Linked DNA regions of Homo sapiens. The protein of the gene in region 1 purifies or fractionates together with the protein of each later gene. This does not show direct contact. Each region holds a gene or a part of one and is shown on either strand. Other genes may lie near its edges.

What was found.
Region 2: the proteins of KLF12 (region 1) and B3GALNT2 purify together in Homo sapiens (affinity purification with mass spectrometry; one large-scale study listed by BioGRID and IntAct). This does not show direct contact.

The regions. Positions count from the first base shown.
Region 1 is NC_000013.11:73,690,405-73,694,215, reverse strand, and holds part of KLF12 (Krueppel-like factor 12), read left to right. Parts: 3' UTR 1-3,811. UniProt on the Homo sapiens protein: Confers strong transcriptional repression to the AP-2-alpha gene. Binds to a regulatory element (A32) in the AP-2-alpha gene promoter.
Region 2 is NC_000001.11:235,501,343-235,505,915, forward strand, and holds the start of B3GALNT2 (UDP-GalNAc:beta-1,3-N-acetylgalactosaminyltransferase 2), read right to left. Parts: upstream 3,111-4,573; 5' UTR 2,911-3,110; coding exon 2,799-2,910; intron 1-2,798. UniProt on the Homo sapiens protein: Beta-1,3-N-acetylgalactosaminyltransferase that synthesizes a unique carbohydrate structure, GalNAc-beta-1-3GlcNAc, on N- and O-glycans. Has no galactose nor galactosaminyl transferase activity toward any acceptor substrate.

The DNA.
Region 1 (3,811 bases):
ATGGGTCAGTTCTCCTTGGAACTGAATCAGTGGAAAGAGAATGCTTCCCATAGAAAGCCCGACATGGTGCTAGTTTCCTCTCTTGGAGAGCCAAGGATAAGTGACTCTCCAATAGGTTCTTCTATACCGATTTCATTTTCTAAACTGTATCAGGACCCAGGTGTCCTGCATTGGCATCTGCAGGGATATTGAACCCACTCATCCTGTGCAGAGGATGAGAGGAAGGTGTTAGTTCCATCAGCCCCATAAAATTATGAACCTTTTTGCAACTAGGAACATATACAGTAAACAAGCAATACATCACCAACGAGCATTCTTTCAGAAAAATTACCATATTTTTGTCCCCACCACAAGCTGGGTTTTTTTCCAGCTTTCTGTGGCTGAGGGGCTGGTGAGATTTTTTGTTGTTATTGTTGTTGTTGCTAGAATTTTTTATAGCTTAGATATAAAAGGTCTCCAACAAAGACCTTTGCAATATATTTTAATTACAAACACTTGATTTTGGGAATTGCACATATTAACCTCACAATATTACTAGCTCATTTTTAAATGTCTGGACATTCTGAAATAATTTCCGGTTACAGAATTACCCTTTTTAGGATCATCTTCTAATTCAGATAATCTTATTCTGATGAAGCGAGAACTATGAACGTTGAAACAAGGACAATTTGTGTTGGATGGTATTCAAAAGGAATTTTTTAAAACATTAAGCAACAGTGTAATGATTTTCAGGTCAAATTATGGCTTCACAAATATGTGCTCTATATTGTCTGCCAGGTCTCAAAAATTCATCAAGCAATTTCCCTCCAACAAGGGCTGCAGTTCTAGTGATAAATAGCATCTTTAGCTGCACAGTCTACTACTCATCAACCAGTGGGTTTTTTTTAGCACCTGGAAAGTTTTTTTGTACTATATGCAACTCCTACTTCACATTGCCTGTGACCATTCAGAATAGAAAAAGGTCTGTTGATGCATGCCAGTGCTGGTTACTAGTCAGTGACAGAGAACACAGAGAGGGACAAACACAGCCATGAACCCCCTGGCACTAGTACCAGCACCTAGTTGGCAAGTAGTGGGTGCATCTCTCAAGTGAAGTGTAGATTTGTATTTAGTCCTGCTTGCTCTCATAAAAAGAGCCAGTTCTTTTCTCTGCTGAAAGATGTCTTGAGAGTATTACAGGTAGACTTGGTTTTTAGAATTCATAAAACTGACAGGCAGGGGAATCTTCCTGAGTGACAGCTTGGTTTAAATTTAGCACAGAACTAGATGAGTTGCACTTTTCTAATAACATAGGATGGATTTGGGGAAGGGAACATTTTCCCTCATCCTCTGAAAGTGGAAACCAGACTGAGATGGTAAGTTAACTGATAAAACCTGTCAGCATTCCATCATTTTCCCCTTTTGACGTATCAGTACTTCTAAGAAGGGATCTAAGCACAATTAAGTGAATTGAGTCCCTGGTCTAGCCTCAGGAACTGAAACTTCTTTGGGGCTTGTCTTGAGACGTGGCAAATTCTCCTTGGTGAGTTTTCTAAAAGTATTTCCCCATGGAAAGGAGAAAGTGGTTTGGGACAGAAAGAAATGGAATGTCTTCAGTCATGGAAGAGCCTCCATTTCATCTCATGTCCATTTCTAGCCTCTTTCAAAAAGCACAGTGCATCATGAGCAACAGAAAAGCAGTAGAATCCTAAAGGACATAACAGTTGTTCCGTAACTAGAAGCATTCTTTGATTTTAAATTTGAAGCTGTTCAGTTTGCAGCTGGGGATATGTGCATGGTTGGGAACTTATACACATAGAGCCATTAACTACTTAAGCAGCTGCAGTAGACCTGATTTTCTGTTTGCAGTATAGAGATTGATTTCAAGGGAGTTACATTATTTGAAAAGTTATGACTTTCAGCCTTTGAGGTTTTAAGAATCCCTTTTCATGGTCTGATCTTAAGTTGTTTGAAAAAAGATTCACGCTTCTGCATCCACCTCTGCCCTCATTCTGTCAATTGTGTGTGGACTCTGAGAAGCCTGCTTGATAACTTGTCTTAAGTTCTATTAAGGCAGTTAGACTGAGATTTCTAATGACTTCACCATAAAGATTATACTTCTGCCTGGCGTCGTTTCTATAAAACACTATAGGACATTTGTTTTCAAAAGCAGTTGAGTAACAGCAACATAAACCACATTTTTTAAAAAAATGAGCACTTTTCATTCACTTGAAAGCTTAAGTGGGAAAAAGGAAGATGATTGTCAGGGGAAAAACTTACAAAATGCTACAGTGTTTACAAATGCCAGTTCCAGGTGATTAGAAAGGCCGTTTTCATTATGGTTCAGATTTGGAATAGCTTATGCAAAGATTGTGTTCATTTTTATACAATTCTTTTTAACTTTAAATTGCCATCTGTGTTTTAAACATAATTCTGCACTTTGGAATCAGTTCATTAGAATGATAACATTTATATGGATAAAGATGCAGTATTCCTTATTCTGTACTTGATTTATTATACTTACCAAAGCTGCAACTGAATAAATCTGGTGAGGTGAGGCCTTCAAAATGTATTAATACGCCTTTGTTATGTTGTTATGACTGCTTAGAAATGTAGCCATGATGTTGTTCTAAAGATGTCTTAACATTTATAGTGAGGATTGACAGAAATTAAGCAGTGTTAAGAATACCAGCATCCATGTTACAGTCTGCGTATAAGGGACTGAATGTGAGGTAACTCTTATGAATCATAATAGGCCCAGAAAGCCTTAATATTCATAGTTCATAATCCAGTCTCAGATTTTGCTCTTCAATGTTGCCTGTAAACTTAGCAGGTAAATGTATTCTAGTATAAAACATCATTGACCAAATCTCTTCCTTTAGTTTTTCTGAGGTAGTGCATCCCATTAAAAAAGTCTCTTCAATTAGATTTGGCTTTAGTTTAGAAAGGGGTTTGGTAAGTCATGTCTTCCATATGACATTTCTACTCATCCCCACACTGCCTTCCACTTAACCTGTACAGACAGCCCCAACACATGCACATGTGTGTACACAACTGTATATGCAGCAGCCAGTGGGCTAACAAATATCAGCAAAGAACTTTTTTAAAAAGAATTTGTAATAATCCGTGCTGTCTAGAAATGTGAGTTACTTACCTTATTAGGAAACCGGCTTATAATACTATATATGACTCTGCCTGCATTTTATAGTTAAGAAATGTACATAAAAATTGCTATATTTTCACAGTTTCATTATAATGTCTGTTTAGTAACCCATGTCCACTGATACTTTAAATATGCTAATTACTGAGCAATTGCAATAGAAATCCAGATTTTCATAAGAAAATGAAATAGAAGGATACTGCATCTTTAAAAAATAGAGTGAAGATATTTTACTGTATTCGTAACATATGTGATAGTGGAAAAAGTATTTTCAAACTCACAAATTTTACAGAGGTTGTAAATAGTTTGATGAAGTATGTTGGGAAAGAGAGCTTCTAGTTTTCATCACAATAAAAAGAAAAAACTTGTTCAGATATGCCTTGTATATCTTACACACAATGAGTGAAATTGCCATGGGAACTCTGTCCAACTTTGTCAGAGCATGCTCTTCGTGTTCTGTTCAAAATAGAGTGGCCACTTGTCATGGTTTAGCCAGGATGGTTTAAAATATAATGAAGTCATTTTAAGTTGCAGACAACTGATTCCAAACTAGTAATGTCTTTTCCTGAAAAGGGCAAAACAGCTGCACAGGATTTTGCTTGTACTAAAGAGGAGCATCTTACAATTGTTCTCTTTTCTCAGTTATCTCCCTCCTCAACAGAGTGTGAACAA
Region 2 (4,573 bases), on another chromosome or scaffold:
TCTGGTACTAAGGTGACTCACTTACTTCATTCTGGTCCCTGCTCAACTGTTACCTCTTCAGAATGGAATGGACTTCCCTGACCTATTTAAAACCATCTCTTTAATCTCTTAACACTGCTTTATCTTTTTTCCCTATACTTATCACTACCGCTGTGATATTTATAATTATTTCCTGATGCTCTGTCTTCCCTTCTAAATTGTAAACTACATGAGGGCAGGAAGTTTAGCTTGATTACTGCTGTAATTCCACACCTACGATAGGAGCTGGCACAGAGTAGGCTCTCAAATATTTGCTGAATCAACTGCGAGCCAAAGAACCTTTTTTAATATTCAGGGAAGGTAAATCGCTCTTTCAAAAAAAACAAAGAAACTGCCATTACTTAATGAGACTGAAGACAGACAAAGCAGCAGAAGAGAAAAAAAAATACATTTAAAAATGTTAATTCAAGAAAAGAATACTTAGCAAAATCTTGGGTTTTTTTTTCTCCTGTTAGGCTTAAAGTACAAGGGTTAAAATGTAAAAACACCCAACTATTTTAGTTTCAACATGGTGACAGCACAATGGTAAAGGAATTATGGGAAATTTTAGCATTTAAGATGCTTCCACTGCTTTTAGCTTTGAAAGTACCAAAAGGAAAAAAGGAAAGGTAGGAGTCAGTCTTGTTTAATTAATTAATTAATTATTTTGAGATGGACTTTCGCTCTTGTCACCCAGGCTGGAGTGCAGTGGCGCAATCTCGTCTCACTGCAACCTCCGCCTCCGAGGTTCAAGTGATTCTCCTGCCTCAGCCTCCTTAGTAGCTGGGATTACAGGCATGCACCACTATGCCCGGCTAATTTTTGTATTTTTAGTAGAGACGGGGTTTCGCCATGTTGGCCAGGCTGGTCTTGAACTCCTGACCTCAGGTGATCCACCCACCACGGCCTCCCAAAGTGTTGGGATTACAGGCGTGAGGCACCGCGCCGGGCCAGTCATGTTTAACTTAGATTATTAAAATATCGATGGTTGACAGCTGCAGCAAACCACCATGGCACACGTTTACCTATGTAACAAACTTGCACGTCCTGCACACGTATCCCGGAACTTAAAAAAAAATCCCATTTATTATCTGACCAGATACACAGTACTCATTCAAAGCCAAAGTTAATTAACATAACTAGTATTGATCTTCTTACCTACGTTATTACCCTGTTCCTTTCTATGGTCTACTTCTTCATTTCCTTAATCTAGCCTGGTCTAACTACTGGATGGCAGATAAAGGCATCATCCTTCAAGTGCAGTAAGGGAGTAGGAAAAACTTGTCTCAAACTAGAAAACTGCCTAGCAAGTCTACTAAGATTTCAGTTTGAAGTCTACTAACATTTCAGTTTTTGTTTGTTTTACTGAACCCTAAACAACCATTAAGGCCATAAACAGACTTAATGACGCTCTACAAGGAGATTCCAGCAGGGCTCACTCATAACAAAAGAGAGAAACCTGTAACACACAAGCAGCTGTTACAAAGCATTTTTTATATATGGCGTTCTCTTCTTAGTTCACTTCACAAAAACCTAAAAAACACTGAGCAAAACCCTGACCCCATCAACTGGTTAAGTGCATAGCAACACTGTACTTTCATTAAATCACTTAAATAGTGTTTAATTCTATTCAGGTCACACAAATCCTTTTCAAAGAGCTAGTGATCTAATAGGAAAAGAGATTGTTACCAAAATAACCTCAACATAATTTCATATAACTGAGACTGTTTTGAGGATTGCCGAATACTTTCTACTTATAAGGCATAGAGTGCTGAACTGCAAACACTCAATTCTAATTTTAAGAACTTTTGGATTAGAAAACAGCTGTTTTGGGGAGAGATGGTAAGGGAAAAAAGTCCCAGTATAGTTACAAAATTAAGTATTACATAATATTTAAAAGAGCTTTCTAGGTTTCTTTCATGTTCTAGGGCAAGCCCTTAAAGAAGAAGACAAGAGATACAGGGAAAGCTAAAGTAGTGTTCAGGGTGGTGGAACCCACTAACAAAACAATCCGCTGGGCACCGTAAGTAAAGCATTCTATTAGGCTGTGACGCGAAACAAGAACAAAGGTTTCATTCCTACGAGAGATTAAGTTTTAGAGCAAATGGACACGATCGTTAAAGAATTTGATATTTCCATGTAAACTGCATTAGCAGGTTATGCGATCCAAACTCACAGGAACAACTCCAACTCTCGGCCATGCCCTATTTCATGTCTAGATTTGTTTAACCGACTTACATCATAATCCAAGAATACGAACTACAGTATATTCTTACAGCAAAGTTATTCCTTAAAAGCAAAACCGAGCCACCTTTGAAAACACGCACACACATTATCCACGGCACTAAAACCCCAGTCTTGACCGAGAAAGACCAACAACTTGGGGGGGAAGAAAACAACTTCAGAGCCAGAGCTCCCAAAGCAGAAAGCGCTGGCGGCTGAAGGGCACACGAGGTTCCGCTCCCGGGCGAACGGGCGGCGTCGGACATCACTAACCAGGCCTGGGGACAGGCGAAGGACTTGCAACTGCGGGCGCCGGCTCTGCGGGCGTTAAGGGAAACGGGGAAGTGAGAAGAGGCGGGGACACGAAAAGAGAAAAGCTCCCTCAAGTTTGCCCGATGTTAACGCTCCAAGGATGAAAAGAGCCGTTTGTTTCGTCTGGGGACCGTCGCGTTTGGCCCTTCCCCCGCCTCCAACAATTCCCGGCGAAGCCCCGCGGCACCAAGCCGGGCCTCCCACCCCCCCGGCGGCCGCCAACCCGCCCGGCCCCAGGACCTCACCTGCAGGGCCGGCCCCGGAGGCGCAGGCGGGCGGCGGGGAGCGCAGCCGCAGCCAGAGGTGCAGCGCGGCCCCGAGCACACACGGGCACAGCAGCACCAGCCAGTTTCGCATTGGCCGCCCCCGCCGCGAGCCGGGCTCTCCCGCGTCCCGGCGGAGAGGGAGGGGACCTGCAAGTGCGGAGACTGAGGGGCGGCGGCTGACGAGCGACCACTCCGAGCACGCCCGCCCTCGCGCTCGGCGACGTCTGGGGGGCTCCTCGCAGCTCCCGGCCCCGCTCCTCCGGTCCCTCAGACCGCGGGTGGCCGCGGCTTAGCCGGCCGAAGCCCCGCCCCCTCCGCCTGGCCTTCCCACCGGCTCCGCCCACCTTTTCTCCCACTCGCCCCGCCCTCTCCTCCCGCGTTTCCACACGCGCCAGCCAGCCGGCCGGGAGCTGAAGTCCCGCTCTGGGCCCAGGCAGGGGGCGCCCGCGGTTTAGAAACCACATTTCCCATGAGCCTAAGCACGCGCTTCCGTCACTCGGCGGCCGCGGGGGCGAAGGGCGAGGCCCCACACAGAGCATGCGCATCCCCCTTGACGTTTGCTGCCACCCCACGGCCCAGGGGAGGTAGTGCCGGAGACCCGGTGCTCGGAGGCTGCCCGGAGCCGCGAAGGGAAATGCGCTTTGCCTCAGATTTGAAGGAAATCCGAGTGGCTCTTGTGTGAAATCACGCAGAGCTCCTTTGTTCCGCGTGCTCTCTTGCTCGACTGCTGTGGGAGGTGGGATCCTGCTGACGTCTCCTTGGCCCGTAGAGTGGGGCGAGGAAGCCCGAGTGTCCGCGCCTGGAGCGGTGACTCATCAGGGATTAGCTCTGGTGCCGTGGGTTCCCGGCTCTTTGCCCGGTTCTGTGCTCTGGGAACGCAGGGTGACAGACAGCGAGCTGGGGACTAGGCTGTGGAACACGATGATGACGAGCCAATCAGGGTAGAACTGCACGTGCTCCGGGTTCATACTGGAGCTGGGAGCGAAACGGGAGCCGGGCGAGCTGGGAGAACGTGGGCTCCGGGGACCTGGGGAAGGGTGGCCGCAGCGAGCCTTCCAGGGAGAACGCCGGCCCCGCGTCTTGAGGCTTTGCCCCGGGTGGGAGCCCTCCTGGCCCACCAGGCCCGCGCCGAGGCAGCCGGAAAGCGGGGACGGGGCGGTGAAGGCACTGGGGTGAGGATGGGAGAGAAGGATGAGAACGAGCGGCTGGGCTATGGGGCGGTTTTTGTTTCTGCTTTTGTTTTTGAGACGGAGTCTCACTCTGTCACCCAAGCTGTAGTGCAATGGCGCGATCTCGGCTCGCTGCAACCTCCGCCTCCTGGGTTCAAGCGATTCTCCTGCCTCAGCCTCCTGAGTGGCTGGGATTACAGGCGCCCGCCACTGCGCCCAGCTAATTTTTGTATTTTTTTTGTAGAGACGAGGTTTCGCCATGTTGGCCAGGCTGGTCTCCAGCTCCTGACCTCAGGTGATCCGCCCGCCTCGGCCTCCCAAAATGCTTGGATTACAGGCGTGAGCCACCGCGCTCGGCCGCGGTTTTTTTTTTTTTTTTTTTAAGTTTCCACAAGTGTGGAAACAGAAGGTGACTGTATTATTGAAAAAAAGTCTTGGATGACAGAAGACCCAACTCAAACAGGCTTAAGGGAAAAAAGTACTTTGGCTCGCCGTGGCTCATGCGTGTAATCCCAGCACTTTGGGAGGCCGAGGTGGGCGGATCACTTGAGGGCAGGAGTTCGAGACTAGCCTGGGTAACATGGT